4 linked regions of the Homo sapiens genome follow. The protein of the gene in region 4 interacts with the protein of the main gene of each other region in a pairwise test. Each region holds a gene or a part of one and is shown on either strand. Other genes may lie near its edges.

Region 1 (7,023 bases), on a different chromosome or scaffold from region 4:
ACATACCCACATGATTTGCAGTTCAGTGTTGCTGGAATAGACTTGCAGGGGTGAGGGGTCACAGTTAGAGAAAGAGAAGGTAGAGCTTATCATGGTAGTCCCATTGATTCATATTAGTGAAGGAATTCTGTATCCATTTTGAGCATCCCTTGGCCCCTCTAGGCCTCAGTCTCCTTGTCTCCACTTTGTAGGGCTGCAGTCAGGATGAAGAAGTGGGTTTGAGGGGAGCACCTGACCCAGGTTGTGACCTACTCAGTCACAACTACTTAGAGTTGCTATTCACCTATTACTGATTGAAAAATGATTCAGAATGAGTGTGACTCTGGGCAAATGCCTTTCAAGACCCCACCTTCCTGACCTATAACATAACATAGGGGGAGTAAGGAGGGTGGAGCTGGATAATCCTTGAGTTTTTCCGTAGCTTAGATCTAGAATGAATCTGATTTCTAGGAAAAAATGTTCTAACAGAGAGTTCATTATTTACACAGCTCACTTACCACCAACCTTCCTTTGTTTGTTTTGCAGGAGGACTTTCTGCCACTGGAACATCTAGGTGAGGTCTCTGCTTCTTGTGCTGCCAACATTTTCATGATTTATTTATATGCACGAGACTTGTTTATGTTTTTTTTTAAATTTCAATGGATTTCCTAGTAGCATTTTTACGTTCTTACAAAATAAAAAAGTAGATATAAGTGAATGTCACTTTCACTTATATTTGTGAACGATATTCACTGTCTCTACTTAAACACAATACATGTTATTGGCTATCTATGTTAATTTATCTACTTCCTTAAATGTGTTCCAGCAGAGACTTGACCACTAATGTCTTAATGGCATTACCTTTCATAGGGCTACAGTGCATTCATTTCCTTCTTCCTCATTCTTCCACTCATTTGGGAAATTATTATTGAATGCTGGCAATGTTCAATTCACAATATTAACTGCAGAAGGAAATGAAATTGGAAAAAAATCCACTTTACTTGAAGAGCTCGCATGGCATCTTGCAGGAAAGGTAGATTATTGTAATATGAGGTGTAAAACTGAAAGGGACCTTTTAAAAAAGACAAGGTTTAAGTTCTGTAAGAATGCAGAGGTCTTTGTGTATCAGTGTTTAATCATTTACATCTTCAAAAATAACATTTAAAATTAGTCAAATATGAGTTTTTGCCTTTCAAAGAGGCCCTGAGGCTGCTGGCCCTCTGGCCTTGCCTTGGCTGTCCTGTTTTGTAATGCTTCCCTGGGCTTCACCTTGTGCCATAAGTCTTCTGATACTTTATTAATAAATGGTGCTGGGAAAACTGGCTAACCATATGTAGAAAGCTGAAACTGGATCCCTTCCTTACACCTTATACAAAAATTAATTCAAGATGGATTAAAGACTTAAATGTTAGACCTAAAACCATAAAAACCCTAGAAGAAAACCTAGGCAATACCATTCAGGACATAGGCATGGGCAAGGACTTCGTGTCTAAAACACCAAAAGCAATGGCAACAAAAGCCAAAATTGACAAATGGGATCTAATTAAACTAAAGAGCTTCTGCACAGCAAAAGAAATTACCATCAGAGTGAACAGGCAACCCACAAAATGGGAGAAAATTTTCGCAACCTACTCATCTGACAAACGGCTAATATCCGGAATCTACGATGAACTCAAACAAATTTACAAGAAAAAAACAAACAACCCCATCAAAAAGTGGGCAAAGGATATGAACAGACACTTCTCAAAAGAAGACATTTATGCAGCCAAAAAACACATGAAAAAATGCTCATCATCACTGGCCATCAGAGAAATGCAAATCAAAACCACAATGAGATACCATCTCACACCAGTTAGAATGGCGATCATTAAAAAGTCAGGAAACAACAGGTGCTGGAGAAGATGTGGAGAAATAGGAACACTTTTACACTGTTGGTGGGACTGTAAACTAGTTCAACCATTGTGGAAGTCAGTGTGGCGATTCCTCAGGGATCTAGAAGTAGAAATACCATTTGACCCAGCCATCCCATTACTGAGTATATACCCAAAGGATTATAAATCATCCTGCTATAAAGACACATGCATACATATGTTTATTGTGGCACTATTCACAATAGCAAAGACTTGGAACCAACCCAAATGTCCAACAACAATAGACTGGATTAAGAAAATGTGGCACATATACACCATGGAATACTATGCAGCTGTAAAAAATGATGAGTTCATGTCCTTTGTAGGAACATGGATGAAACTGGAAACCATCATTCTCAGCAAACTATCGCAAGAACAAAAAACCAAACACCGCATGTTCTCACTCATAGGTGGGAATTGAATAATGAGAACACATGGACACAGGAAGGGGAACATCACACTCTGGGGACTGTTTTGGGGTGGGGGGAGGGGAGAGGGATAGCATTAGGAGATATACCTAATTCTAAATGACGAGTTAATGGGTGCAGGACACCAGCATGGCACATATATACATATGTAACAAACCTGCACATTGTGCAGATGTACCCTAAAACTTAAAGTATAATAATAATAAAATTAAAAAAAAAGACCCAAGCAGAAGCAGACACAATATTTTTACTTGAATCATGCTGGACTGGAGGACTTCCAGAATATTGATTTCCCTGAAATTCTGTGTAACCCACAGATACTTTTTAATCCATTCTCTCCCCCTCTGTCACAGTCACAGTCCTAGTGAGTGTCAGGAGCCTTCCTCGTCCAGGCCTTCCAGGATAGACCCTCAAGAGCCCACTCACTCTAAACCACTAGCCCCAATGGAGCTGGAGCCAATGTACAGCAATGGTGAGGACTCCCTAGGGGGCAGAAGGCTCTAGGGAGGAGCCAGGGAGGGAAGAGGGATTGAGCGACAGCCCATGGCCCTGTCACAAATTTAAAAATGACATTCCTAGCATTACACTGGGAATAGAAGTTGGTTATGAATTTGGTGATTGGGAAGTAGAGTCTAGAATATGAGCTCTTGACTGCAACCAACTATGATATCTTCTCTCACAGTAAATCCTGGAGATAGCAACCCGATTTATTCCCAGATCTGGAGCATCCAGCATACAAAAGAAAACTCAGGTAAGATGCCTTTCAGGCAAATAGAGGTGAGGTGGCAGTGTTTTATTGAAACGGGCAAGGGGTCTTTGATCAGAGTTATTTCAAATACAAGCCCAACACGCAAGGCATTACTTGCCTCCCATAGTGTCAGCTGTAGAATCTATCCATTTCTTCTTACCTTTACATACTGCCACCATGATCCCATAAATTCTTTGAGGACAGACACTGTGACTTTTTCACTAATGTATTCACAGCATTTAGCTCAATGCTTGGAAAACTGTAGGCCCCCTAAAATATTGTTTGAATTAATGAGTGAATAATCAAATGTGGAGACAATTGTCATTCTTTTAACTGGTCTCTTTATTTCTACTACTGTTCTCCTCCAGCCTTCCCAAAATCTATTTCCAGCATGATCCCTTTGAGGTGCTCTATTGTTCACATCAGTGCCTAGATTAACTGCCCTCAATGACACCCATTCCAAAGCATGATCTTTGCCTTCTGCACGCTGGCTCCTCCTGCAAGCTTTGCCTAATGTTCTTCCTCTAGCCATACTGAACTCTTGGCACCTTTATGCTTGGTGCTCATGTTTCTTACTGGTCTTGAAATGTCCTTTCCTCTAGTCTACTTGGTGACCCCTACTCATATTTCAAGACATAGATCAGGTAACAGTGAAACTCACACTGATGCCAACTACCCTTTCCATATTCTAATCTGGGAGGAGACATTTATTCTTTATGGTAACAACATAGTTCAATATGTATTTCTGTCTTGGTGCCCATAATGCTTGTTGCATTTATTTCTATGTCCATTTCTCCCCTTCAAAATTATAGGATTCTTGATCACATGAACTGAGTTTCTGTCATTTTTTTTTTTTTTTTTTTTTTTTTTTTTTGTGAGATGGGGTCTCGTTCTGTCGCCCAGGCTGGAGTGCAGCAGTGCGATCTTGGCTCATTTCAACTTCTGCCTCCTGGGTTCAAGGGATTCTCCTGCCTTAGCTTCCTAAGTAGCCGGGATTACAGGCATGCATCACCATGCCCAGCTAAATTTTGTATTTTTAGTAGAGACAGGGTTTCACTATGTTGTCCAGGAGTTTCTGTCATTTCTATCTCCTTATACCTTACCTAATGCCTAATAGAAGGCATTGCTTATTGGCTGCACAAATAAATAAAAGAGATACAAACAGCCCCTTGGAAAGGTAGAAAACATACACACACACTAAATTTTCTCAATGCTCCAATGCAACTCTTTGGCTTCCTGGGAAATTGTCATGTGGCCTTAGAATGCCAATCTCCTCTCTGGTCTCTTCCAATTTCCCTGTGCAAGTGAAGTGACTCATATCTGCCTCCTTCTCCCAGAGGATCAATACAGCCATAGAAGTCTGCAGTGGATTGGGGGTGGGTGCCCCTCTGGGGTTATAATGAGCAGAGGAGCAAGAAGGAAATTGTCATGAAAATAGTTCTGGGCATTTGGTGGGCAGAGGAAAGTCTTTATTAGTGTTTGTGCTTGGGGCAGTACTTTTTCTATTTGGGTTTGGAAGAATCCAACAGAGGAAACAGTCAAGAGATCAAGCAAATCAAGAAGATTGGCTTGGAGTACTTTTTCTATGTGGGTTTGGAAGAATCCAGCAGAGGAAACAGCAAGAGATCAAGCAAATCAAGAAGATTGGTTTGGAATGCAGTGTGCGTACGTTGTAAGTTGGAATATATTGCCCACAGTTTAATACTTTTCTTTGCTACTCCTACCCAACAGCTAATTGTCCAATGATGCATCAAGAGCATGAGGTGAGTCACATTTCTTGGCTTTCTTTCCTCTCTGGCCTTCCTCTCCTGTATTTAGGTACTTACCTTTTGTGTTTTTTTCTACCAGGAACTTACAGTCCTCTATTCAGAACTGAAGAAGACACACCCAGACGACTCTGCAGGGGAGGCTAGCAGCAGAGGCAGGGCCCATGAAGAAGATGATGAAGAAAACTATGAGAATGTACCACGTGTATTACTGGCCTCAGACCACTAGCCCCTTACCCAGAGTGGCCCACAGGAAACAGCCTGCACCATTTTTTTTTCTGTTCTCTCCAACCACACATCATCCATCTCTCCAGACTCTGCCTCCTACGAGGCTGGGCTGCAGGGTATGTGAGGCTGAGCAAAAGGTCTGCAAATCTCCCCTGTGCCTGATCTGTGTGTTCCCCAGGAAGAGAGCAGGCAGCCTCTGAGCAAGCACTGTGTTATTTTCACAGTGGAGACACGTGGCAAGGCAGGAGGGCCCTCAGCTCCTAGGGCTGTCGAATAGAGGAGGAGAGAGAAATGGTCTAGCCAGGGTTACAAGGGCACAATCATGACCATTTGATCCAAGTGTGATCGAAAGCTGTTAATGTGCTCTCTGTATAAACAATTTGCTCCAAATATTTTGTTTCCCTTTTTTGTGTGGCTGGTAGTGGCATTGCTGATGTTTTGGTGTATATGCTGTATCCTTGCTACCATATTGGGAACAGCCAAAAGAAGTTATAGAACAAGAATTTAAGGTGACTCTATCTGAAGTGTATTTTTGTACTTACAGGGTGACATTCCCAACCAAATTACCCTAGTTATGATGAAAAATAACTTCAGCATTTCATTAAAGACTCTGCTAGTTTAATATGTGACTTGTATCCCCACTGCAAAGACCTTATGTGTGAAGAATCACATTAATTGTAATTTTTGCTTCATGACATAGTCTCATCATTTGCCATACATGATAGATTTCTAGTCAGTCAGTTTTATTCTTATAAGCACCCATTAACCCCGAGACAATAACCTACTATATCTATGTGGCTTCTCCCATTCTCTTCCTCTACCTCACTCCATCTGATAAAAAACCATTCTAAATCTCATGTTCATTATTCCCATGCTCTCCTATTTCTATCATATTAATGTATCTACATGTTTTCCTTAAATATGTTTTTATATTAGTTTTAACTATAAGTTAAAGACCATATTGTTGTAGATAATTTTTTTTAGTACTTTCTCTTCATGTTGTATTTCTAAGATTCATCCATATTGTTGCGTGTTGCTATAGTTCATTTGTTTTTATTGCTGTTTAGTATTTACTTGTGTAAAATATCTGGCTTAATGTTTTCCTAGCTATCACCATCAAAAACTCTTTCCACAGTGTGTTGAATTTTTAATATGACAAAAATGAAAATGTACCAACAATTTTCAGTGACTTCACCTCCATTCTGAAATCCTGATGTTTCCAAATATCTCTGAACACCTCAAGTCCTAGGGACAACTGAGATTATATTAACATTAATCTCTGAATGTTGCCAATTCTAGGCCTTCACTTGGTTCATGTAGGAACACCAAGTCCCTTTCAAAGCACCACATCTTCCTCTAATCAATATTTCTTGGAGTCCCTAGGGAATGTCTTACATGCATTCAAACAATCACCATTTCTGGAGATACACTACAGGGTCACCATAAACTCTGCTACCCTTAGGTTCCATCACTATGGAAGCTGAGTTTCACCAGAAGGCACTTTTGTCCTCCATTACGACCAGCAAAGCCAGCTAAGCCACAGCTGCTGGCCTCAAAAAATGTGATGATCAATCCACACTGCTCCCACTGGCCTCTGTTACCCTTATCCTGGCCTTTGAGTGCAGGGCATGATGTCCTGCCCGTACTGAGATGCTGATCTCTGCCAGTTCATGTTCATATTGGCATTAAAATTTTAAGGTCCCTTGAAGAGGGAGGAGGCAAATGTCTCTGTCTTCTATGTGATACATTCTGCTGTTTTTTTCTCTATGGTGAAAATATGTAAACCGGTTTTGGGTACCAACCACCAGGCTGTATATGGAGGCTCTCCTCCTTTCTAACCCTGCTGCTGATTTGGAATTACCTTGCCAAGCCCCTTTGTGCCTTATAGTGAACTTTCTCTAAGGGACCTGTCATCTCTTATCATTGTTTATCCATTTTCTAGATTCTGAACCCAAGAAAGAACA
Region 2 (7,636 bases), on a different chromosome or scaffold from region 4:
GGTTTGTTACATATGTATACATGTGCCATGTTGGTGTGCTGCACCCATTAACTCGTCATTTAACATTAGGTATATCTCCTAATGCTATCCCTCCCCCCTCCCCCCACCCCACAACAGGAAGGGGAACATCACACACCGGGGCCTGTTTTTAAGCTTTCATATGTGGGATCAGAGCATACTTGACACTAAGGCTAGTTTGGCTCCACTACTGAGGCAATCCTCCTCTGAGCACTTAGTCTGATGCACTGTATCTTATGAAGTCTCTTCTCTCTGACTACTGGGAAACTGAGCTATTCCCAGTCTTGTGTGAGCTCTACAAATCACTCCTCCTACTCCTTTTGAGTGGTTCTATCCCAACCTTGCATACTTTACATGCATGTGCTGATCAGTATTCAGCCTTGAGGGAAATCTTTTACAGAGTTCCGGAGTACTCTTTCTGTGCAGTGCCCCTCTGGCACCTTGCTCTGCAAATTCTGCCCACCCTCACCTCCTTGAATTCTGAACTTTGTCTCCTAAATTTAGGCGGACTTCCAGGCTCAGCCTGGATTCTTTCTTCCTGCACAGAGGACTGGAAATTCTCTCTAGGTAGTAAACGGAGGCAATTGTAGGGCTCACCTCATTTGTTTCTCTTTTCTTGAAGATCACTGTGCTGTACTGTCTATTTTCCAATGTCTAACAACTATTATTTTATGTATGTTGTCCACTTTTTTAGTTGTTTAAGATAAAAGGGTAAATCCTGTCTCTTATTCTTTCATGGCCAGAAGCAGAGTCCAGCTTTCAATTTTTTTAATATTTGGGTCAGATTAGTTTTGGGTTTTTAAAAATAACACTCAGATAGAAAGTAGATGGCATCAAAGGTCATAGACTGACAGGATCCTTAGAGACTACCTAACATCCAACCCCTAGCCCCACCACACACACACACATTCATTTGGTGGATTACAGAAGTGAGATCAGAGAGAGGAAGGGGATCTTCCCAAAGTTACATGCAAGTTAGCCACAGAATTAGGGCTAGAATTCAAGTCTTCTGCTCTCTAGTTTTAATCCATCAAGTTATTTTCTGCTGATTTTCTCTTCCAAATTAGTTTATTTGGATAGACATAGCTTTGAAATCCAGAACTTCTGTACTGCCCAAACCCACAGAATGTGCAATATTAGCTCACACCCAGGTGGTACTTGATTTTGTTTCAGTTTTGCAAACACAGCTTCTAGGAGTTGGCCTGAAGTGAATTCCAGAGTAACACATAACACTGAAAAATGTAAAACACCCCCATGGGTAGGCACTCCAGAACAAAACCATATATTTTTCCCCATCGACTTATTATGAACTCGCTAAGCAAAAAGGAGTGTGACTTAGAACTTAGATTGACTGATTTAGTCTTTTTACCACCTATGGGAACCATGTGTCTGTCCTACAAAAAGAAACCATTACCACTGCAAATGCACTTGTCTTTTCACAATTCTAGCAACTCCTAGTCCCCTTTCACCTAGATTCAAAAATTTTATCTGAGCTGGGTCTGGGAGCCCTTCTGTCTTGTCTCTGCACTCTTCCTTGATGTAGCCTAGGAAATGCCCCTGCTTTGGAGTTAGAGTAGGCTTTAACTCTCAGCTCCAAAACTTATTTGCTGTGTGACCTTGGATAAGTTACTTAACCCCTCTGTAAAGACAGGGATGATACTGTCTTACATTGATTCTAAAGCACATTTTTTTTCACATTCTAGCATCTTTGAAATCAAGATGTATCTTGTTAGCCATGGTATGATGGTTAAATGTTCAGCATTTTTCCATTTCCTAGTGGTATGTACTGTGTCATGCTTTCAGAAAATACGGTATTGTTTCCTAACTTGCAGAGCTTCCTCAAGGATTTAATACAAGACAGCAAGCATAAAGTAGGCACTCAAGGACTCTTGCACCGTTTATTACTAGAATGAATGACTAGAACTAATACTTGGCTGAGTCTTGGGTTTCCCAACTTCCCTCATCTAGCTATTGGTACAGCAATTGGGGCAATTAGTCTGACAAGGTGAACAAGCCTGAGGCCGGCACACTACTGACCAGTGTTGCAACGTGTGATTGTCAATGGGACCTTGGGCCCTTTCTTGTTGGTAGCTTCTTGCCCTCTAGTCCTGGTCCATTAATATCATCAGCTTGATCGTGCCTCTGCTGCTACTGAATTATGAAGGTAGGGAAAAGGACTAGGTGACTTCTTAAGCCATCATCCCAAAGTCTCCCTGTTTCATCCCAAAGACTCTCCCCAGAATGTAATGAGGCTTGTCAGTTGAAGGGCTCCTTCAAGGCTATCAGAATCAGAGCCTGCAGGGCTGGAAGCCAAATCCACATTCCCCAAAGCTCCACCACATACTTCCAGTTGGGGAACTGATATTTGGATGTCTTTGAAATCCAAGAATACCTACTCTGCTCACATCTGGAGGGAAAGAGAAGACACCGGAGGATTAACCACCCTCAAACATCTCCCTATACAGAAAAATAGCTGGTATTTATTTCCTAGCACTTCTCTGGCTTTTTTCCTATCTCCGGCTGGCAGGCTTGTCTCAGTTGCAGAGGCCTCATCCCACCCAACCCCTTCCACTCCCTATTATCCCCCTTCGTGCCCAAAAGTGCAGCTGCAGACTCCATGAGCCCATCCCTCTGAGGCACCAATCTTTAACATGTGTCTAGAGGGTCCCCTGCTGGAACCTAGCAGTCTCGGGCATGGTCACAACCACAATAAAAATAGGAAAGGTCAAGAAAGACTGGCCTTTGTCTCTGGCCACTTCTAGCAGCTTCACTGCCTCCCAAGTGATTGTAAAATCATTGAGTCTGAACAAACTACCGCTTGACAGTGCATGCCACCCAGGATTCTGTACCATGGCCAGCACGAAGCTAGGAATTAATAATAACTGTGAGTGATTATCACGGAAACTGTCTCTAGGAAAAATGACCAGGTTTTTACCATTCAACCTTGGGGAGATAAAATCAGGCATAGCAGAAAAAGGACAAATGATCTAAGAGCAAATGCAGGACTCCAGATCCAAAGAGCATTCTTGAGGCCCGATTATACACCTGTCTCATCTCCCTGTCTCAGAGGCAGGTGACGAGAAGGGGAGGAGGTATCTCCATCCAGCCCATCAACCAACTCCAAACCCTGTGCTCATTCTAGACCCTCCCCAACACCTCCTTGCCCTTATTCCCTGTCAATTTGCCTCTCTGTAGGTCTCTGCTTGCCCCGCTCTGTTGGACCTGTCAAGACCCTCTTTGTCTCCTGCCACAGCCTCCCTTCAGCTTTCTCCATCCAACACCAGCCCTGATTTTAGAATATCGCCCTACCTAAAACCCACCAATGAACAAGAATGGCAAATTATTTACCCTTGTGAAGGCTGGGTAATAGGAACATGGAGGATTATTTTATTATTCTCATTACGTTTGTGTATGCTTGAAGTCTTTCATAATAAAACGACTCTCCGACGACCTCCAGGGATCTCAGGGTAAAGTCCGAAGTCTGCAGACTGGCATTCAAGACCCCTCAGGATTTGTCTCTACCCAGTTTAACCAGCTAACCTCCTGGCACTCACCATGCTGCAGCCTGTTTTCCCAGCCTTTGGAACTCAAGTCTCTCTTGCAGCCCTAGTTTTACCCCATGCATCTTCTTTTTACAGAACACATTTCCCCTTGTGCCCTGCCTAGAAAACACCTCCTAATCCCTTGGAAATCTAATGCAAATGATCCCTGGTCTGGGTCACCTTCCCTACCTTCTGGGGGCAGGGAAGAGGGGGCCTCCTCAGTCCTGATATACAACAAATACCCAGTATGTGTTTAGGAGAGACCAGAATGTCTTGGCTAATAGAACGTGTGCAATATTTACTTGAACTTAGGCAAGTAGGGTAATCTTTCTTGGCTTCTGCTTCTGTCTCTATAAAATGAAGATAATAGCGGTACTTATCTCACAAGGCTGGGGTAAAGATTCAGCGGTATTCTCTGTGTAAACAGTTTAACACAGTACCTGGCAGAGAGAGGGGGAGAAAGAGGGAGAGAGGGAGAGATGCTGACTGACTTACAGACAGACATACTTCAATCAAAGAATATAGTGGGTAATTATGTGGCTTGTCTTAAATGAAATGCTTCCAAATCCCACAGGGAAAGCACTGCCGCTTAGCTCTTCCTGGGAGCTAGAGAAATTCGTGGAAAATCGTTGACATTAAAGTCACGATTCCTTTCTCGGGCTCAGGGGCTATTCATACTTTGGAGGGTTTTCAGAAGTCGAGGGGAGTCCCGGGCCCTCCTATTTGGAAGAATCGGAAGGATAGTGCAGGGTCTGTGCCTGGGAGCTGGCCCGAAATCAGGGGGCTAGGAAGGCACGGGGTTTGCACGAAAATCAGCCCCGGTGACAATCCCCAGTCTGTGAGCTCTCGGTGGACTCGGGGCCCCAGGGGTGGGAACCCGGAGTGAGAAAATCTGAGTGGGGTCTGGTGCACGGCCCCCCACCTGCCAGCCCCGCTCCCTGGGCTGCGGCGGCCTCGTGCGTCACGGGCGCAGGCGGGGGCCGAGGGGAGGGCGGCACCGCAAGGTGAGGGCACCGCGCTGCCTTAAGACGCCGCGCGCCCCCGCTGCCTCTCAGAGCTTGCAGCGCGGCGCGCTGGCCGGACGTGCGGGCACAGACGCTGTGCCCCGCTCCTGCCGCGCCCGCAGCGCCCGCTGCCCCGTGCCAGCTCGCAGCCGCCCGAGCCCCGAGAGGCGGCCGGGACGAGCGCGAGGAGCCCCGAAGGACCTGCACGCGGCGCCCGCGACGCCACGTCTGCAGCAGCAACAGGTAAGCAGCCCGGCCCTACTCCGGGCTCCGTGGCCCCCAGCACCCGGCAGGGCCCCGAGCCTGGGAGCCCACGACGCCCCCTCTGAAGCGTCCCGACGGCTGCTGAGCTACCAGGCGCGGTGGCCCGCGGTGCGGCCCCTTCTCGCCTTTCCCTAGCCATCCTCCCGCCCTCGCGTTTTCTCTCTCACTTTTTCTCGTGCGTTCTTTTCCCCCTTCCTCTCCATTCTCTCGTTTTTTCCTCATCCTTTCCCTCTTCCTCTGCTTGTTCTCTTTTCTTATTATTTTTTGCTTTTTCTGTCTGCGTCTCTCCCAGTCTGTCTTGCTCTCTCATTCTCTCTCACTCTCACGCTCCCATTTCTTCTTTTTTCTTTCTTTCTCCCTCTCTGTTGCTCACATTCTCTCTGTCTCTCTGTATGTATCTCATTCTTTCGCTGTCTCTCATTTCCTTTTTGTCTCTCTGCCTCTCAGTCTCTCTCGCCCTGCCTTTCTGACTCTCTCCACCACCCTGCACCCCTGCCTCTTTTGCCTTTCTCCCCAGCTCCTTTCCCACTCCCCTCGGCTGTCACCGACACCAAGCAGATCCGGAGAAAGCAAAGAGGATGCCAAATTGGGAATGGGGATGGGGCTGTGGAGGGTGAGGGTAGGGGAGCTCAATAGGCATCCTCTCTGCATTTTCCAGTCTCCATTGCACTGCTGATAAACTAAGGGTTTTTTAACCAAAGCCCGCGGTGGCCGGGGCGGCAGGTGGTTTCCACGGCAAAATAAAGTCCACAGGGAGACAGAGATCCAAAGAGACAGAGATCCAGCCAGAGAAAAACCAAGGTGAGGGGCCATGGGAAAAAGATGTAGAGAAATAGAGATGCGCACACACTCAAAGATACAAAGCAAGTGTTTAGCCAGAGTCCTGGGGTGACAGGAAAGTGAAGGACAGAGAAACCAACGAGAGAGTGCACACACTAAAGAGATAGCTTGAGAGACAGGTGAGACAAGCAGTAGAGTGTTAGAGATCAATGGAGAGAGAGGCAGAGTAATGCAGAGAGAACTTAGGCAGGGAGAGACAGAAACCACACGGAGAGACACAGAGACAAGAGGGTCCGAGAAAGACAGAGCAAGCGCACACGTGCCAGTGAGAGACAGAAGGAGACACCCAGAGAACCCGAGGGAGACGCAGAAACAAGAGAGTTGGAGAGACACGGAGACGGGCAGAGACACAGCGAACGACATTGAACAGGTGCGCTAGGGACCCACAAAGATGAACTGCTGGGGAAATAGACTGAGAGAGAAATGGAGAGACAAGAGAGCACTAGGGAAAGACGGAGACACACATGAACTAGCGAGCGACACAGTGACAGGCAGAGACACAGAGAGACAGAATGGATCAGAAAGAGACTGAGGGAGAGACGGGCAAGACTGTGAGAAAGATAGGGAGCGAGAGCGCAAGCCCTGCAGAGAAAGTGCGCTAGCGAAAGAGACACACACAGAGAGACTGAGTGACAAACAGAGTGGAAGAGATAAATGAGAGTAACAGGAAAGAGACAGCGTGCACGTGCTATCGAGAGACGGAGAAACAGAGACAGACATAAGTGAGAGACAAGGATGAGAAAGAATCAGGAAACGGTGAGACACATACAGACACACAACCCGAGAGATAAAGAAAAAAAGTGCGCTAGCGAGAGACACTGGAGAAGAGACAGAAACTGACGGTCGTAAACAGACAGAAACAGAGAGCGCACGCGCATGCGCTAGCGCTAGCGACCAAAACTCCCCGGAGCCAGAGACAGTGTGAGAGACAAGCAGAGAAAGCGCACGCACGCACGCGCCAGCAGGAGAAACAGATGAGAGGAAATCAGAGCCCTGGAGAGAGACAGGCAGACAGATCTGGAGAGTCCGGAAAGGAGCCATAGAAGCTGCCCGCACTGGGGATGGAGCCGTGCGGAAACCCGGGGTAGGGGGTCCTGCAGCGTCCTTGCTGGGCGCGGAGGCTTCTCCCCTTGACGGGTGACTAACTCTGCCTGCGTGTTTCTTTTGTCACCAGCATAGGCACTGAGTGCGGTCTGTGCACCCCTTTGCCACCCACCGGTGCCGGCACTGAGCCTGCAACCTGTCTCACGCCCTCTGGCTGTTGCCATGACGTCCACCTGCACCAACAGCACGCGCGAGAGTAACAGCAGCCACACGTGCATGCCCCTCTCCAAAATGCCCATCAGCCTGGCCCACGGCATCATCCGCTCAACCGTGCTGGTTATCTTCCTCGCCGCCTCTTTCGTCGGCAACATAGTGCTGGCGCTAGTGTTGCAGCGCAAGCCGCAGCTGCTGCAGGTGACCAACCGTTTTATCTTTAACCTCCTCGTCACCGACCTGCTGCAGATTTCGCTCGTGGCCCCCTGGGTGGTGGCCACCTCTGTGCCTCTCTTCTGGCCCCTCAACAGCCACTTCTGCACGGCCCTGGTTAGCCTCACCCACCTGTTCGCCTTCGCCAGCGTCAACACCATTGTCGTGGTGTCAGTGGATCGCTACTTGTCCATCATCCACCCTCTCTCCTACCCGTCCAAGATGACCCAGCGCCGCGGTTACCTGCTCCTCTATGGCACCTGGATTGTGGCCATCCTGCAGAGCACTCCTCCACTCTACGGCTGGGGCCAGGCTGCCTTTGATGAGCGCAATGCTCTCTGCTCCATGATCTGGGGGGCCAGCCCCAGCTACACTATTCTCAGCGTGGTGTCCTTCATCGTCATTCCACTGATTGTCATGATTGCCTGCTACTCCGTGGTGTTCTGTGCAGCCCGGAGGCAGCATGCTCTGCTGTACAATGTCAAGAGACACAGCTTG
Region 3 (7,023 bases), on a different chromosome or scaffold from region 4:
GTTACTACTGATTTGTCCACAACCTTATGGATGGTACTTCAATGGGAGAATAATCTCAAAGCTCCCCATGGTGGCATTACAGTAACTAGAATGGCAATTCTGGTGTTCTGTGATGAAAAGAGATTCCAAATATGTGATTTCAGAGAAATTGGGATATTTTTGCAAAACATGAGAATCCTTGTAGAGTTAATAGGCACTATTCTACCCCAACTTAAGCTAGAAACAAATTTCCCCTTTAAGATGATAACAGGGGACAAAATCCATTCTGCTTCCCCTCCCGAGTTGCTGTTGAGTCACAGATGTGCTGAGGAACTGCCCTTTCCTCTTCTGGAGAAGTTTCTCAGTGGATGATCGTGATTCAAGTGTTTTCAAGACCAAATGCAAAAATAGAAATGGCATTTTCTGTGTAGATTTCAGGGATCTGGTGTCCAATGTCAACACTGCAGAAAAAAAGAGAACTAAAAGGCAAAAAAAGGGCCGGGTGCGGTGGCTCACACCTGTAATCCCAGCACTTTGGGAGGCCAAGGCGGGCGGATCACGAGGTCAGGAGATCAAGACCATCCTGGCTAACACGGTGAAACCTCGTCTCTACTAAAAAATACAAAAAATTAGCCGGGCGTCGTGGCGCATGCCTGTAGTCCCAGCTACTCGTGAGGCTGAGGCAGGAGAATTGCTTGAACCCAGAAGGCAGAGGTTGCAGTGAGCCAAGGTTGCGCCACTGCACTCCAGTCTGGGTGACAGAGTGAGACTCCATCTCAAAAAAAAAAAAAAAAAGTCAAAAAGAGAAAGGAAGTTTTCTAAGTGAATCAGGAGACATGTTATGGAAAAGTAGAATTTGTCCCATCTTTCTTTCTTTCTTTCTTTTTTTTCTGAGACAGTGTCTCGCTGTGTTGCCTAGGCTGGAGTGCTGTGGCGTGCTCACTGCATCGCTGCAGCCTCAAACTCCTGGGCTCAAGCGATCCTTCCACCTCAGCTTCCTCAGTAGCTGTGACCACAGGCATACACCACGACACCTAGCTATTTTAAATTTTTTCTTGTAGAAACAGGGTCTCACTGTATCGCCCAGGCTGGTCTCCAACTCCTGGGCTCAAGAAATCCTCCCACCTCGGCCTATCAGTGCTGGGATTACAGGCATGAGCCACCGTGCCCGGCCCCCAGATCTTTTTTTTTTTTTCAGGGACTGTGGCAAAGTTACATTTGCCCTAAATCTATCTCTCTCATACCTTACTGACTAAGAGGGATAATTTAAACTACATGTTTTGTAAAATTTCATTCACAATCAACATGGATGATTGAAAGCAAGGATAACAGAATGGTAGGTGTTATGGAAATATACAATGAATTAATAGAAGACTTATGCCAGAGAGTTCCTTATATCCTGATTGGGAGGATGAGATGCATATGTACTAAACAGAGAACATTCAAAATTAATGACATGGTTTAGTTGTGAAAGAGCTAAAGTAGGGCAAAGTTATGTGAATGGTGGGAAGCCAGGAGAGAGAGGTTCTTACTAAGAACTAGATTAAGAAGCATCTTGAAGGCTTTGAGGAGAAGATGAAGTAGGGGAGCTGATTCTGGGAGTTTTCTTAGGTAAAAGCATAATGACTAAACTGTTATTTCCTAGATCAAAGATTGTGTCCGTAAAAAAAAATTGAACTATGAGAAAAATTGAGCCAGGTGTGGTGGTGGATACCTGTAGTCCCATCTCCTTGATCATTTTAGCCCAGGAGTTTCAAGCCAGCCTAGGCAACAGAGCAAGACCTCATCTTCATTTTTTTTTTTTTTTTTTTTTTTTGGAGACAAGATCTCACTCTGTTAACCAGGCTGGAGTACAGTGGTGCAATCATAGCTCACTGCAGCCTCGAAAGCAATTCTCCCACCTCAGCCTCCCAAGTAGCTTAATAATTTTTAAAATTATTTTTAATTTTTTTTAGAGACAGGGTCTCCCTATGTTGCCCAGGCTATCTTGAACTCCTGGGCTCAAGCAATCCTCCTGCCTCAGCCTCCCGAAGTGTTGGGGTTACACGTGTGGGCCACCGTGCCCAACAAAACCTTGCCTCTTAAAAAAAAAAAGCAAGTGTCTTATATGTTTCTGAATCTTTAGTGTTTAACAGAATGCCTGCTAAGGAATACTTACTCAAATGATTGTTGAATTTAACCGACTCTAGGACAAAAATATGAATAGGAAACATTTATCTGCAGGGCTGCTGGGAACCTGGCTTGAAAATCTTTAAGCTAGGAGTAGTTTTATCAACCTGGACAATTAGGTTGGCCCATTTTAATCTTTTAACATCATCCTTGTCCTAACCTAATCAGGCTTTTGTTCTCCATGTACTTGGCTAAGGAAACCTGTTGGCAGCATATTAATTTAGATTTCACCATGAACGTGGAGTTCCCCCCAAAGTCGAAAGAGGGTGCGGAGGACAGCAAAGTTCATTTATTAATGATACCAGAGCTACTGTTAATAGCTGTGTTTATTAAACACTTAGTATATGCCAGGTACTCATCCAATTACCTAACATACCTGAACTTATTTGTCATTCACAGTAACTCATTTGGTAGACACTTTATTACCTCTTCCTCCAGATAGGAAATAAAGGCTCAAAGGGGTAAGCAACTTTGCTGAAGGTCACACAACTAAAAAATATTGGAGCTAGGATTCAAACCCAGAGCTTGTCTGCATCCTGAATCAAGCTTGTAAGCATTATTCTTCACTATTTCTATTTTTATCTCCTAAAGGAGTATTTTCTTTTAGAATCTGGACAGAGGTCCTTATTCATTTTTATAGATGAATGAATACTTATTGTATAGCAATTAATTTTGTGTTCCCAGTGAGGAAGACTCCCAGTATAGCAGGGGAGCTGGGCTGTCAGCTGGGAGTGGAAGAAAGTAATATTCCCGGTGCAATTGCAGGAAGACTTGGGTGAGCCTGAGGGGCATCTGGCCAGCACAGACCATGCTCGCATTCATTCCTGCACATGCACACCTTTCCTTTATGGACCAGTGTTCTTCCCAGCCGTGTTAGAGGTACCCACAGAGTTCCTGGCCATTTAGGTACTTTATACCAGTCACGTATCTAGGTATGTAACCAGAATCTGTGTCTTGAAGGCATTAAAAGGAAAACCTTAAACAAATTAAATTTAACAGTGTTTAATTGAGCAAAGAACAATTTGTGAATCAGGCAGCCTCTTGAACCAGAACTGATTCAGAGTTTCTGGGGCAGCCTCATGGTCGAAGAAGATTTATGGGCAGAAAAAGGCAAGTGACATACAGGAAATAGAAGCAAGGTACAGAAACAGCTTGATTAGTTACAGCTCTACATTTTCCTTATTTGAACAAGGGTTGGACAGTTGGCTGCCTTTGATTGGCTGAAACTCAGTGAATGGTACAAAAGTAGGTTACAGTCTATTTACACATCCAGTTAGGTTACGTTTCACTACATATGGAGAAATCTTTAAGTGGAATTTAAAATATGTAAGGAGGCAGCTTTCAGCTAAACTTAACAAAGGTGAAAAAGCTGGCCAGAGAGCTGTAATAATAAAATTAAAAAGTATATAATGTCAGACCATTTTGTTTTCAGCACAATTTATGTTTTTGGGGGATCTTGGTATATTTGCTACAGAACAATACTGGATGCTGATCTAGCTACTAGACCACTATCTCCCAACTAACATGATTTTTTAAAATAGTATTTATTGAGCTCTTACTAAATCCCAATTTTTTTTTTTTTTTTTTTTTTGAGACAGAGTCTTGCTCTGTCGCCCAGGCTGGAGTGGAGTGGGGCAATCTCGGCTCACTGCAACCTCTCCCTCCCAGATTCAAGTGATTCTTCTGCCTCAGCCTCCTGAGTAGCAGGGATTACAGGCGCGAGCTACCACGCTCAGCTAATTTTTGTATTTTTAGTGAAGACAGGGTTTCACCATGTTGGCCAGGCTAGTCTCGAACTCCTGACCTCAAGTGATCTGCCCGCCTTGGCCTCCCAAAGTGCTGGGATTATAGGTGTGAGCCACCGCGCCCAGCCTAAATGCCAATTCCTGAGCTATAAGCTCTTTACATATATTATTTTATTCAATCTTCCCAACAATCTTAAGACAGTACTTATTATAATTACCTGTACGTTAAAAATGGGGAAATTGAGTCACAGAGCTGGTAGCTAATTTTCCTAGGGTCACACCACTGATAACTGAGATGACTCCATAGCCAGAACACTTAGCCATTTCTCATTTCTAATTGGTAACCAAGACAGGAGGAGGCTGATATATATTGCATGGTGGGGCAGTTGGCCATGGAGGAAGACAACCCTGAGACTGGAGTCCAGAAAGACCACGGATGTCTGATACTGAAAAAATTGGGGGAAAAAATTTTAAGGGTTTCTGTCAACAGAGAGGTGTGGCTATGGGTATAACTGTACTGAAATGGCTCTGGACTGACTTGGAAAAATTTCAAGTATAAAAGATCTCACACCCATGTGGTCTATACCACTTTAGAAGATTTTGCATTTTAGTCTCTAATATGATGTATTAGCTTCTAATCCCAAAAATGTCTACTGGATGTTGACCAGAGGGAGGGAGTGTGAAAACTGCTTCTTGAGTTTGTACTTCAATTAAAAAATACAAATACACTCACACAAAACATAGAGGGATTACGATTTGGTTCATTCAGGATGAAAATGTGATTAAAACCCTCATTGTTCTCAAATAAAATTCTGGGACAGAAGCCAGCTAGGAGGTATTTCAAAACAAACACATCTTGGTGAGTAGGGAAAGGCTATATGCCCAGCAATGTAATAATAATAAGTAGCTGCCATTTACTGAGCATACATTGCTAGGTGATGGTAGAGCCTAGATTCCCACCAAGGTCACTAAAATCTGAAGCAACTGGGCTTAACTAAAATGCTCCTCAGTCTGGAGTGCAAGGTGGCCGGGACCAGGGATCCTGTTGGACACTTCCTGACTCCAGGAACCAGAGAGCTAAAGGAGTAATTTGGTTGAATCTGCTACTGTCAGGGCGATAATACATTCCCTCAAAGAGCAGAGTTACGCAGAATGACTGACTAGCAGGAGATGCTTAGAGTGGAGGAAAGAAAGTAGGAACCCGGCAGGTAAGAAACTATGTCCAAGAGACACACCAGACAGCCATTTTAAACAGTCACAGTTAAAAACACCCTGTACCGGCCGGGTGCGGTGGCTCACGCCTGTAATCCCAGCACTTTGGGAGGCCAAGGTGGGTGGATCACTTGAGGTCAGGAGCTCGGGACCAGCCTGGCCAACATGGTGAAACCCCATCTCTACTAAAAATACAAAAATTAGCCAGATGTGGTGGCAGATTCCTGTAGTCCCAGCTCCTTCGAAGGCTGAGGCACGAGAATTGCTTGAACCCAGGAGATGGAGGTTGCAGTGAGCCAAGTTGCACTACTGCTTACTCCAGGACTCTGTCTCAAAACAACAACAAACAAACAAACAAACACAAAACACCACTGTACCCAAACCAAATAACCTTCTCAAGAGCGGCCAGCACCATATATACACTTTTCTGAGTTAAATCAGCTTATTGAAGTGGGGTAGAGGTGTGGGGCATCTTGGCTGGGGCTTCTCAAGTTGCCAGGCTACTGAGGTTTTCTGTCTTTTTGATGGGTAATCCAGCAGCACAGCTGCCTTCAAAGAAATGCCTCAGGAATGTCTGTTGTTGTTTTGTTGTTATTGTAGGAGAGGGAGATGGATCTAGAAAAGCAGGCACATGCAAATGATCCCAGGAGTATATCCCAAACTACAGAAAATAAGAGCCATTCAGGAACCCAGGGGGCTAGAAACTGTTTCTTTCCAATGTTTAACTCCCCGCTGAGCATACAGAGCATGGAGGACCATGCCTTCTTTCCCCTTCCAGAACGCGTCTACAGAGCAGGCCCCCAGATCCCTTCTCCCTGGAGATCTGGAAATGGCAAACTGCAGGCTCCTCTCTGCTGCAGGAGTGGGAGCAGCTGGACATAGGATTCAGAATTATTCCACATTTTAACAAACACTCACCGAGCACATTATATTCTAGGCCTTGTCCTGAGCACTGGTGAATTTTATTTCTAGGAGGCAAAATAATCCCTCAAGTCTATTTTAAGCTGTTTTATTTATAGAATGAGTGAAGTTTGAGCTGAAAAGCTCTATTGATCACATCTCATCCCTCATCTTTGTCACAGTCACATGTCTTCCCATTGGTTTGCTCCCTGCTTTAAATATCCTCAGCATTAGCAGTGACATCACTTCTGGGGAGAAGGTTTCACAATGTCTGAAGGTGGACCAGGCAACCTCACACTGAACTGCACATTGCAAAAGCAGATTACTCAGAAAGAGTACCACTGCTGCAGAATTATTACTTTTCTCATCTGTCTCCACGTTTTAAAGGTGCTTGTTTGTACATTTAGGAAATGCACAAATACTTCAGTGCTTTTTAAGAGTACAGTTCTGCAGAGAGTGTTTAGTAAGCAGCTGATAAAGACAGGTCAGGTTGACTTAAGGTGGTATTTGGACCCTGATATTGAAAGCAGAAAGTTTAGAGTGAATTTTTCCATGATTTGCATCGGCATGCCATAGACTGGGAGGAACCACTGATTAGAAAAAGATGGGCTTTAGAGATAGTCTTAAGTTTGCAAACCGCTTCCCTATTTACAATCTTTGTAATCTTGAGCAAGCTAATTATCAGTTTACTTAGCTGTGCAATGGAAGTTTCTTGTGGAGTATTTAAACAAAGCTGGCCAGGTGGGGTGGCACATACTTGTAATTCCAGCACTTTGGGAGGCTGAGGTGGGAGGATCACTTGGATCCAGGAGTTCAAGACCAGCCTGGGCAACACAGTGGGACCCTGCCTCTACAAAATATTTAAAAATTAGTCGGGTGGGGTGGCACACGCCTGTGGTCCCAGCACTAGGGAGGCTGAGGTGGGAGGATTGCTTGAGCTTGGGAGGCAGAGGTTGCAGTGAGCTGTGATTGTGCACTCCAGCCTGGGTGACAGAGTGAGACCTTGTCTCAAAAAAAA
Region 4 (7,926 bases):
GGGCGACAGCGAGACTCCGTCTCAAAAAAAAAAAAAAAAAAAAAAAAAATCACATACCATGCAATGACAGTAAAAATCATCCCAAGTTTCATACCACTTGAACTAATGTGCTCTATTGTCACTTGGCTATGAAGAATACAAGTGCTAGGTTTCAGTATTGGCATCGTATTACCTTGTCTTTTAAAATCAGGTTGTGAAACTGGTATCTTTTTCAATTTGTTGCCAATCAGTTATGCGTTAATTGATTTGAATTCAGTTCCTTCTGTTGTGGTAGATTTGCTTCTGTATCGTATGATTTCAAGTTGCTCATTGCCTGAATTCAGGACAGGGTAGTGGGTGGCTTTCTGGGGCCATCTCAGGCGGGCTGAATTGACCTGAAGATGGCAATAAGAGAAAAAAGCCAAGTAAATATCAAGAACAATTTTTAGCATAAAATTCAGTGTTAAGATTCATTGAGAGCTAATCAATAGAAACGAAGGTTCTGTAAATACATCCATCTTATGGGAATAACTTAGGTCATAACCATTGTTGGCAAAGGAGGAAATTTTTCTTAGTTCCTCTGCACTTTCCCCAATGATATTAATGTTACACCTCTTTGATCGTACTTGAAATGATTGTAATAATAACGAGAGCCGTAAGAGTTTGTTGGTCATAAAAACATACAACATTTTAAGAACTTTATTGGGTTTTTATTGACATATATAACTATTAAATATAAGATTATAGACCCCAAATATCAAATTAACTTTAGCATTTACAATTTTCCTTTGTCTCCTCTAAGCAGCCACAATTTCCAATGTAGCACATAATGAGGTCATCATAGTTGCAAATCTATATCTTCATATTGTATAACTTGAGAACATTTTTAAACTCAGTGTATAGGTTTGTGTGGATGTTGTATCAATGTTCACAACACGAGGCAAGTGGAAATAAAGCAAAAATACTGTTAATGTGTAATAACATTGTGCTAACAGAATGGGCAATTTGTAACAATGCCATCAGTGACTCCACTATCTAGCACAACAGTTAATACATAGTGTGTAAGTTCACATTTCAGATAAGTGATAGTTATCATTTTAAGTACCAAAACTTAGGTTTAAAGAAGTTTCTGAGATATGCAGAATTCTACCTCTCACTGGGCTTTGAAAATATGTTACTCCTCAGGACTCACCGTGTCGTAAGCATCACTGATTATTGTTTATGTCTGTTCTAAATTGCAGAAACAGTTTCAGAAACCTAGGTTATTTGGTTTTTAGTCCTAATCTTGTTACTGTAAAAGTCACACGTGTTCATCCATTGTAGAAAGTTCTCCAAAGTGCAATCACATATAAAGAAGCAAATAAAAATCATCCTCAATCTCACTCTCCAGAAGTAATGATTATTAACAGTTTCATGATCTTCATCACACTGCATTAAGTTTCCCAGAGCTGCCATCACAAATTAGCACAAACTGTGTGACTTAAAACAACAGAAATTTATTCTCTTACAGTTCACGAGGCCAGGAATCTAAAATTAAGGCATCAGCAGGGTTGGGTCCTTCTGGAGGCTCTCAGAGAGTCTGTTCCATGCGTCTCTCCTGGTTTCTGGTGTTTGCCAGCAATCTTTGATTCATAGACACATCATTCCCATCTCTACCTCCGCCATCACATGGCCTTATTCTATGTGTGTGTCTTTCTGCATCCTCTCCTCTTTTTATAAGGACACCAGGTATTGGGTCTATAGCCCATCCTAATCCAGAATGACTTCGTCTCAGCTGATTAACATCTGCAAAGACTCTGTTTCTAAACAAATTCATATTGTGAGGTTCTGGGTGAACATGAATTTGTGGGGGACACTGGGGGACACTTATTCAACCCACTACACACACTGTAATATATATTTATAGAATCACGAAAACGGGACCATAATTTATATAAAGCTTAGTTCCCTTTACACTTAAGATACCATGAATTTCCCTAGGTCTTTCAAACACAGAATTTTAATTTTTTGTAGAGTGTTTCATCATATGAAGATTACATCATTTCCATAGCTAACCTGCTACTTCAAACACTCAGATGGTTTCCAGACTTTACTATTATAAATGGCTCTGATGAATATACATGTTCCCAAATCTTTGAATTTATCTCTGCTTATGTCCTTGGTATAAATTATTCTGAGTCGAATTATTGGATTAAGGGGTATGAACATTTTAAAGGCTCATGAAAAATCTTCTTTAATTGAATTCCAGAGATTGTATCAATTTGCCATCACCAGCAGAAGAGAGAACCCATGGCATTGCATTCTCTGCACTGCACGTTCTAGCTTTTTGAGTGTTGGACAAGTGACTAGGCAAAGAAATAACATCCTTACTTTGTGACTTGTATTTTTATGTAAGGTTGCCTCTTTGTTTACGGACCACTTATATATCTTTTTTAGGTTACCAATTTATGATTTGTGTCTCCTTTTCAATTTTTTTCTCCTCTCTCCAACTGCCAGTATTTATTTCTTACCATCTCACGGATGAGTATACTGTCCACCTCCACCCCTTTTAGAGTCCACTGTTAGCTAAGAAACTATGTAGATGTATCCTCCCTCTCCTTTTCCCATTCTCGAACCACCTCTGAATCTTGTACAAATGTCAATCATTGCCTCCATTGTGTCTTAACTGTTTACATTTCGCTTTCCCTTCTAAGACTTTGAGCACTTTGGGGCCATTTCCATGTCTTATCTGTGTTTTTGTATCTTCAGCAACTAACATGGATGCTCAATAAACATACATTGAACTGAGTTGTTACGTTGTGACCTGGAAATATTCACAATTCCTTGTATAGATAGAAATAGCTAAATAAGGGCACATAAGGATAGACTCTAAATGGCACTCAATAATGTGCATAGGGCTGGGCGTGGTGACTCCCTGCCTGTAATCACAGCACTTTGGGAGGTGGAGGTGGATCACCTGAGGTCAGGAGTTAGAGACCAGCCTGGGCAACATGGTGAAACTTCGTCTCAACCAAAAACACAAAAAATCAGCTGGGTGTGGTAGTGTATGTCTGTAATCCCAGCTATTTGGGAGGCTGCAGCACGAGAATTGCTTGAACACAGGAGGTGGAGGTTGCAGTGAGCTGAGATCGTATCATTGCACTCCAGCCTGGGCAACAGAGCAAGACTCTGTCTCAAAAAAAAAAGCATAGGATTTAATCCATGAATTTTGAATTTCTATGTTAAATTTTTAGAAATAGTAACTTTTTCTCCCATATTTCTCAGCTATATCTGAGATAACTGGGACTGAGCAACATTGTCTAGACAGGCAAAGTGTTAGCAATAATAAGTATAATAATAATTGTAATGTAATAATGGAATGAGGATGTTAAAGTACTGAGATCAGGATAAAAGTTACAATTGTCCAAATTTTAAATTTCCTATCATTTCCACTGAAATCACTGACTGTACTTATAACATTATCAGGAATTTATGCAATTTGTAGGTTTTGAAATAAATTACCATTCAGAATTCAACCGTGAAAAACAGTGTAACTCTACTTGAAAAACACTTTGAAAAACTCAAGTTTCCACCAAATCTAGAAGCACATGGGTCGTAAAACATAGTTCGAAAAGTTACGAGAGATGATGACTACAAGGAACTTTTTATAAAAATCTTTTATAAGCATTACTCTGTGGTCAAATTTATTTTCACATGGATATTAAAACAAGTTATTGCTACAAATGGGTTTCTGTTCTGATCCTTTTTTTGTTTGCCTCACATATCCTTTCTCTTCCACCACATTCTGCTTCACTCTCCCCGTCTCTCATCACAGACAAGAAAAATGCCACCTCCCATAGGACCCACTCCAAACCCTGTTTCCTGAATGATCAATGCCTTCCCCCATCGCAATCAAAAAAGCACTTTCTATTCTGTCTTCATGACACACTGGTTTTGACACTTGCATAGCTGTTAGTAATTCTGCAATGTGCTTGGGCTATTTGTGAGCACATGTATTTTTCCTTTATAGATTATAAACATCTAAAGAACAAGGTTAACCCAGGAGTCAAGTAAATAGTTAAATATTATTTTGACAATGGCTGTAATAGTGGACATTTGAAAGGAATACACCTCAGTATTTTGAAATTGAAATAATTTTCTAGATCCTGGCATTTCTGGACTTTCAACAGCCCACCCTTTTTAAAAATTGTGAAGACACTTTTACTATAAAGGTCTGCCCAGACCCTCTCTGATACACCTGTGTAAATGCCACGTGCATGTGAGCATGCGACAGTACGTGTGTGCACGCCTGTGCAGTGGTAATCAACCATGGTGCTAAGGTTTGAAAACAGAAAATACATCAATCGACCTCCAAGCTTCTTTCATCCCACTTCATAACATCTCAATCTCTTGAGTGCTGAGGCTTATTTTGTTTAAGATGATTTGGACTCTTCTGAGTGCAACGCAATCTCCTTCCAGCACAGCGGACCGAGGAGAGGTGAGGGGAGAGTTTTGAGGGTGGGCATATTGATCCTACGCTTGCTGAATTAAAAATGAGCCAACTGAGGACAATTTCCAGGTTGCAACACAGACGGAGCCGGAGTCTGGGTTGAGGTTAGAGGAGCCGTTAGGGCGCAGGGATGCAACAGGATTTGGGAGAAAGGGGAGAGAAAGCAAGGCCACTTCCAGGGGGCTTTCATTTTTTTTTTATCCTGGCAGCTTCCCGAGCCAGATTTCAAAAGCGATTTCAAACGTGAAGCCAACTGAAGCACTGCCTTACACTAATTGGAAGGGGAAGGGAGTGACTCATATTACACCAGCTCGCTCTTCCCTCTCGGCAACTGCTAACTTGTAGCTTTAAAAGGAAGTGACATGGGTGGGGAGAGACGTCAGCTGAGGACCACTTTTTTTTTTTTTTTCTTCCTGAAGGGTCCACCCCATGGGTGGAGTCTCGCTTTTTCTTTCCAGTGTTGGCTGACTTACAGCTCTTATAAACTAGTGGCAATTTCTGAACCCAGCCGGCTCCATCTCAGCTTCTGGTTTCTAAGTCCATGTGCCAAAGGCTGCCAGGAAGGAGGTATGTGGTCCTGGTGCCGTTCGCAGGCACCTTCCCCGCTGGGTGTGGCTGATGTTTGCATTCCTCTTCCCAGCATATTTTTCTCTCCTGGGCTGGATTTCCTTAGGACCTCTGGAAGGGGTAGGCTCCGGGGGCGGGGGGGGAGTGCAAGGCGGGCGGGGGAAAGGTGCAGGGGGCGCCTGGAGGGAGGCGAAGAGAGGCTCTGCTGGTACAAAAGGACCCTCGCTTTGTGCTGGGCCGGGTGAGCGTCCCTTTCTGGGCTGTGATTTCAAGCTGCTGTTCCTGGCTTCATTTACCCACCCACCCAGCCCCCTCCCGGGGCTAAAGCATTTTCTCTGCTATAGACGAAGCTGGGCGGGGGGTGGTGGTGGGGGGAATGTTCCTATTACATATTGCTCTCTTTTGTGTCATGCAACATGTTCTTCCGTCGCTGACGTTTCTATGGCAACCACAAAAATACTACACAATATGCAGCCCCGATATACATTGATTTATTTGTATTTTGTGTCTAGTTTGCAGCTTTCTGCTCTGCTTCTTGCTTTGGTTTGCTAAAATCCAGCATGGCTTGTGGCTACCCCTCCTCACTTTCATTTTGGTTTTTCCCTATCACAGGAGGGGTGGGGGAGGGGAGTTGTCAAGGAAACAGGCATTGGTAATTACCTCTCTATTTACCTAATTTTCGGCCTATGAATTTCTCCATATCGAGGAATTAAAAAAAGAATGCTTTGATGTTTATGTAAGTCTTCAGTGTCTGGTCTTTTTTTAGAAAACCTAAACACTTCTTAAGATAAGATATTGATCCTGTGGTCAAGCTAAGGGGGAATTAATTCCTTACAGGAGGTGAGATCATTGAAATAAAGTTTTAGAGAGCATTGGAGAATTCGCACTGATAAATGTGATATTGCCTGCCCAGGTTTGCCTAAAAGCTTAAATATTTAAAAGATGGGTCTTTGCTCTCATCTGCACTTATTTAGCTCCAAATCTTAAGTTCAACAAGTATGAGTAACAAATTAACTGCCGGGCAGGATTCTCCGTTTTTCGTTTTCGTGCATTGTTCTTAGATGGATTAGCCACGCTATTCACTCTCTTCAAGGTGAGGGTTGCTAGACTTTTTCAAAACTGTGGAAGGATTAACTCATCTGTGATTAGTCAACGACTCTCAGTTGGAAAAAAAGTATCTTGAGAGAAGGGAGAATGTGTGTGTTTGTGTGTGTGTGTGTGTGTGTGTGTGTTTAGGGAAATGGGAGGCGGGCAGGGAGAACAGGGCACATCTTGAGTTCTACGTTAAAAGGATTCCATCTTCTGAATATTCTCTATGGGGAGAAAAACTGTTATTCAGAAAAAATATGAAATGAGAAAATTATTATCTACTTAGTAATAAGCAAAGTTAATTATAATTAGAATCAAATAACACATCTCTTAGAAAGACATAGCCTCTTAACAGGTACCGGCTAAACTGATGCTTTTATTCAGTACGTCTAAGGAAGCGTTTGATAAGGGATACCATTCTTCTGATGGGCATCCCAAATAATTAGCTTTTATAAAATAGATAAGTAGTAATCCCATTCATGACTCTTAAAATTATCTATAATTTAAGATAAACATGTGTGAAGGTCACTTAGCCCTCATACCTTCCGGCTGCTAAAGCCAAAATCATTACTTATAAACCTTGAGCAACCCTGCCATGTGGAAGCAGGAAGAATGGGTGGTTTCAGTGAGGTTCTGTTTGCTGTGATCCTTATCTAAATATGCTATCATCTATGTCTTATCAAATCTGCTATAAATCCAGAGGTCCTAAGTAATTCAGGTAGAAAAGTTACCTGAAAATGGGGCAAAATAGCATGGCACAAAACAAACCAGAGCCACATGGAGTTAAAGACGAGAACTATTTAAAGGGCATAACACACAGAAAAGTATTACTAAAAAGAATATGACACTCATTTTGAAAAGCACATGTTAGTACACAGAGAAACGGTTGGATTGTGAGCATCTGATGTTTGCAAAGAATTCTGAAAAGCAGCCAGGCTGAAATTACTGTTTTTCCTGTCTGAAAATGGTCCTCAAGGGCAGATTTGCCACATGACCTTCCAAAGCAGATTGACAGCATGTAAATCAAAGTCTGCGATGTCGGTTCTCTTGAGTTTCCAGATTCAAAATTTCACAGCAAAAAGCCTAATGGAATAGAACTGAAAGGAAAAAGAGCAAGACTTCCTCAGAAGCACAGCCAAAACAAAAACAACAAAAAACCCAAACCCAATAAACAAACAAAACACTGTCTGATATTCAGATGCTGAGTAGAGGTTAAAGCAGTTAGCAGCTTTGGCCTAGGGAAGGTAAGTGGAGCTGTGAGTATAAAGTAAACGTAGGGTCCCATGGAAGAGGCTGACAGAGGTGACACCCAGAGGGTGAGTCAGCCGTCATTTTATTGGGATTTTACTGTCTGCAAGGCTCTGCTGTGAAGTTGGTGAAGAAGGCAGCAGTTGTAGTCTGTGCTCTCAAGCTTAAAATCCACCAAACGGGTGGCGAAAAGAAGAGCAGAGCACCCAGCTGGAAGGAAGGGGGAGGCAACAGCCAGTCAAGGAGACGCAATTAGTATGAGAAGAATACTAGAGAGTCTTCATCCTGCTGCTGAAGCTTTATAGGAGAGGAGGCAGACGGTTCAAGGGAAGAAGGAGAGGGTGTCTTAGATAGCAAAGGTGGATGGTAAGAAATGGATCATGGTTCAGGGTTCTTAACTCCAAGAAGGGAGAAGTCAGTCTTTAGTATAGAAGTAGAGCAGGTATACTCTGTGCTGGTTGAAAGCATAAGTAGATGTAAATTGGGGACAGAAGTTTTTCTTAATCAGAAAAAGAAGGACTGTTAGAAGACTGAACAGAAGGCAGAATCCTTCC

The links.
Region 1: the proteins of AGPAT4 (region 4) and FCRL3 interact in binary tests that used the Homo sapiens proteins (3 or more experiments, as listed by UniProt).
Region 2: the proteins of AGPAT4 (region 4) and GPR101 interact in binary tests that used the Homo sapiens proteins (3 or more experiments, as listed by UniProt).
Region 3: the proteins of AGPAT4 (region 4) and SLC7A8 interact in binary tests that used the Homo sapiens proteins (3 or more experiments, as listed by UniProt).

The regions. Positions count from the first base shown.
Region 1 is NC_000001.11:157,676,747-157,683,769, reverse strand, and holds part of FCRL3 (Fc receptor-like protein 3 isoform 1 precursor), read left to right. Parts: intron 1-525; coding exon 526-553; intron 554-2,670; coding exon 2,671-2,789; intron 2,790-2,999; coding exon 3,000-3,068; intron 3,069-4,796; coding exon 4,797-4,828; intron 4,829-4,913; coding exon 4,914-5,060; 3' UTR 5,061-7,001; coding exon of another isoform or gene 7,002-7,023. UniProt on the Homo sapiens protein: Promotes TLR9-induced B-cell proliferation, activation and survival but inhibits antibody production and suppresses plasma cell differentiation. Enhances activation of NF-kappa-B and MAPK signaling pathways in TLR9 stimulated B-cells.
Region 2 is NC_000023.11:137,030,973-137,038,608, reverse strand, and holds the start of GPR101 (probable G-protein coupled receptor 101), read left to right. Parts: upstream 1-4,613; 5' UTR 4,614-4,807; intron 4,808-6,842; 5' UTR 6,843-6,934; coding exon 6,935-7,636. UniProt on the Homo sapiens protein: Orphan receptor.
Region 3 is NC_000014.9:23,173,658-23,180,680, reverse strand, and holds part of SLC7A8 (large neutral amino acids transporter small subunit 2), read left to right. Parts: intron 1-7,023. UniProt on the Homo sapiens protein: Associates with SLC3A2 to form a functional heterodimeric complex that translocates small and large neutral amino acids with broad specificity and a stoichiometry of 1:1.
Region 4 is NC_000006.12:161,271,047-161,278,972, reverse strand, and holds the start of AGPAT4 (1-acyl-sn-glycerol-3-phosphate acyltransferase delta), read left to right. Parts: upstream 1-4,911; 5' UTR 4,912-5,035; intron 5,036-7,926. UniProt on the Homo sapiens protein: Converts 1-acyl-sn-glycerol-3-phosphate (lysophosphatidic acid or LPA) into 1,2-diacyl-sn-glycerol-3-phosphate (phosphatidic acid or PA) by incorporating an acyl moiety at the sn-2 position of the glycerol backbone.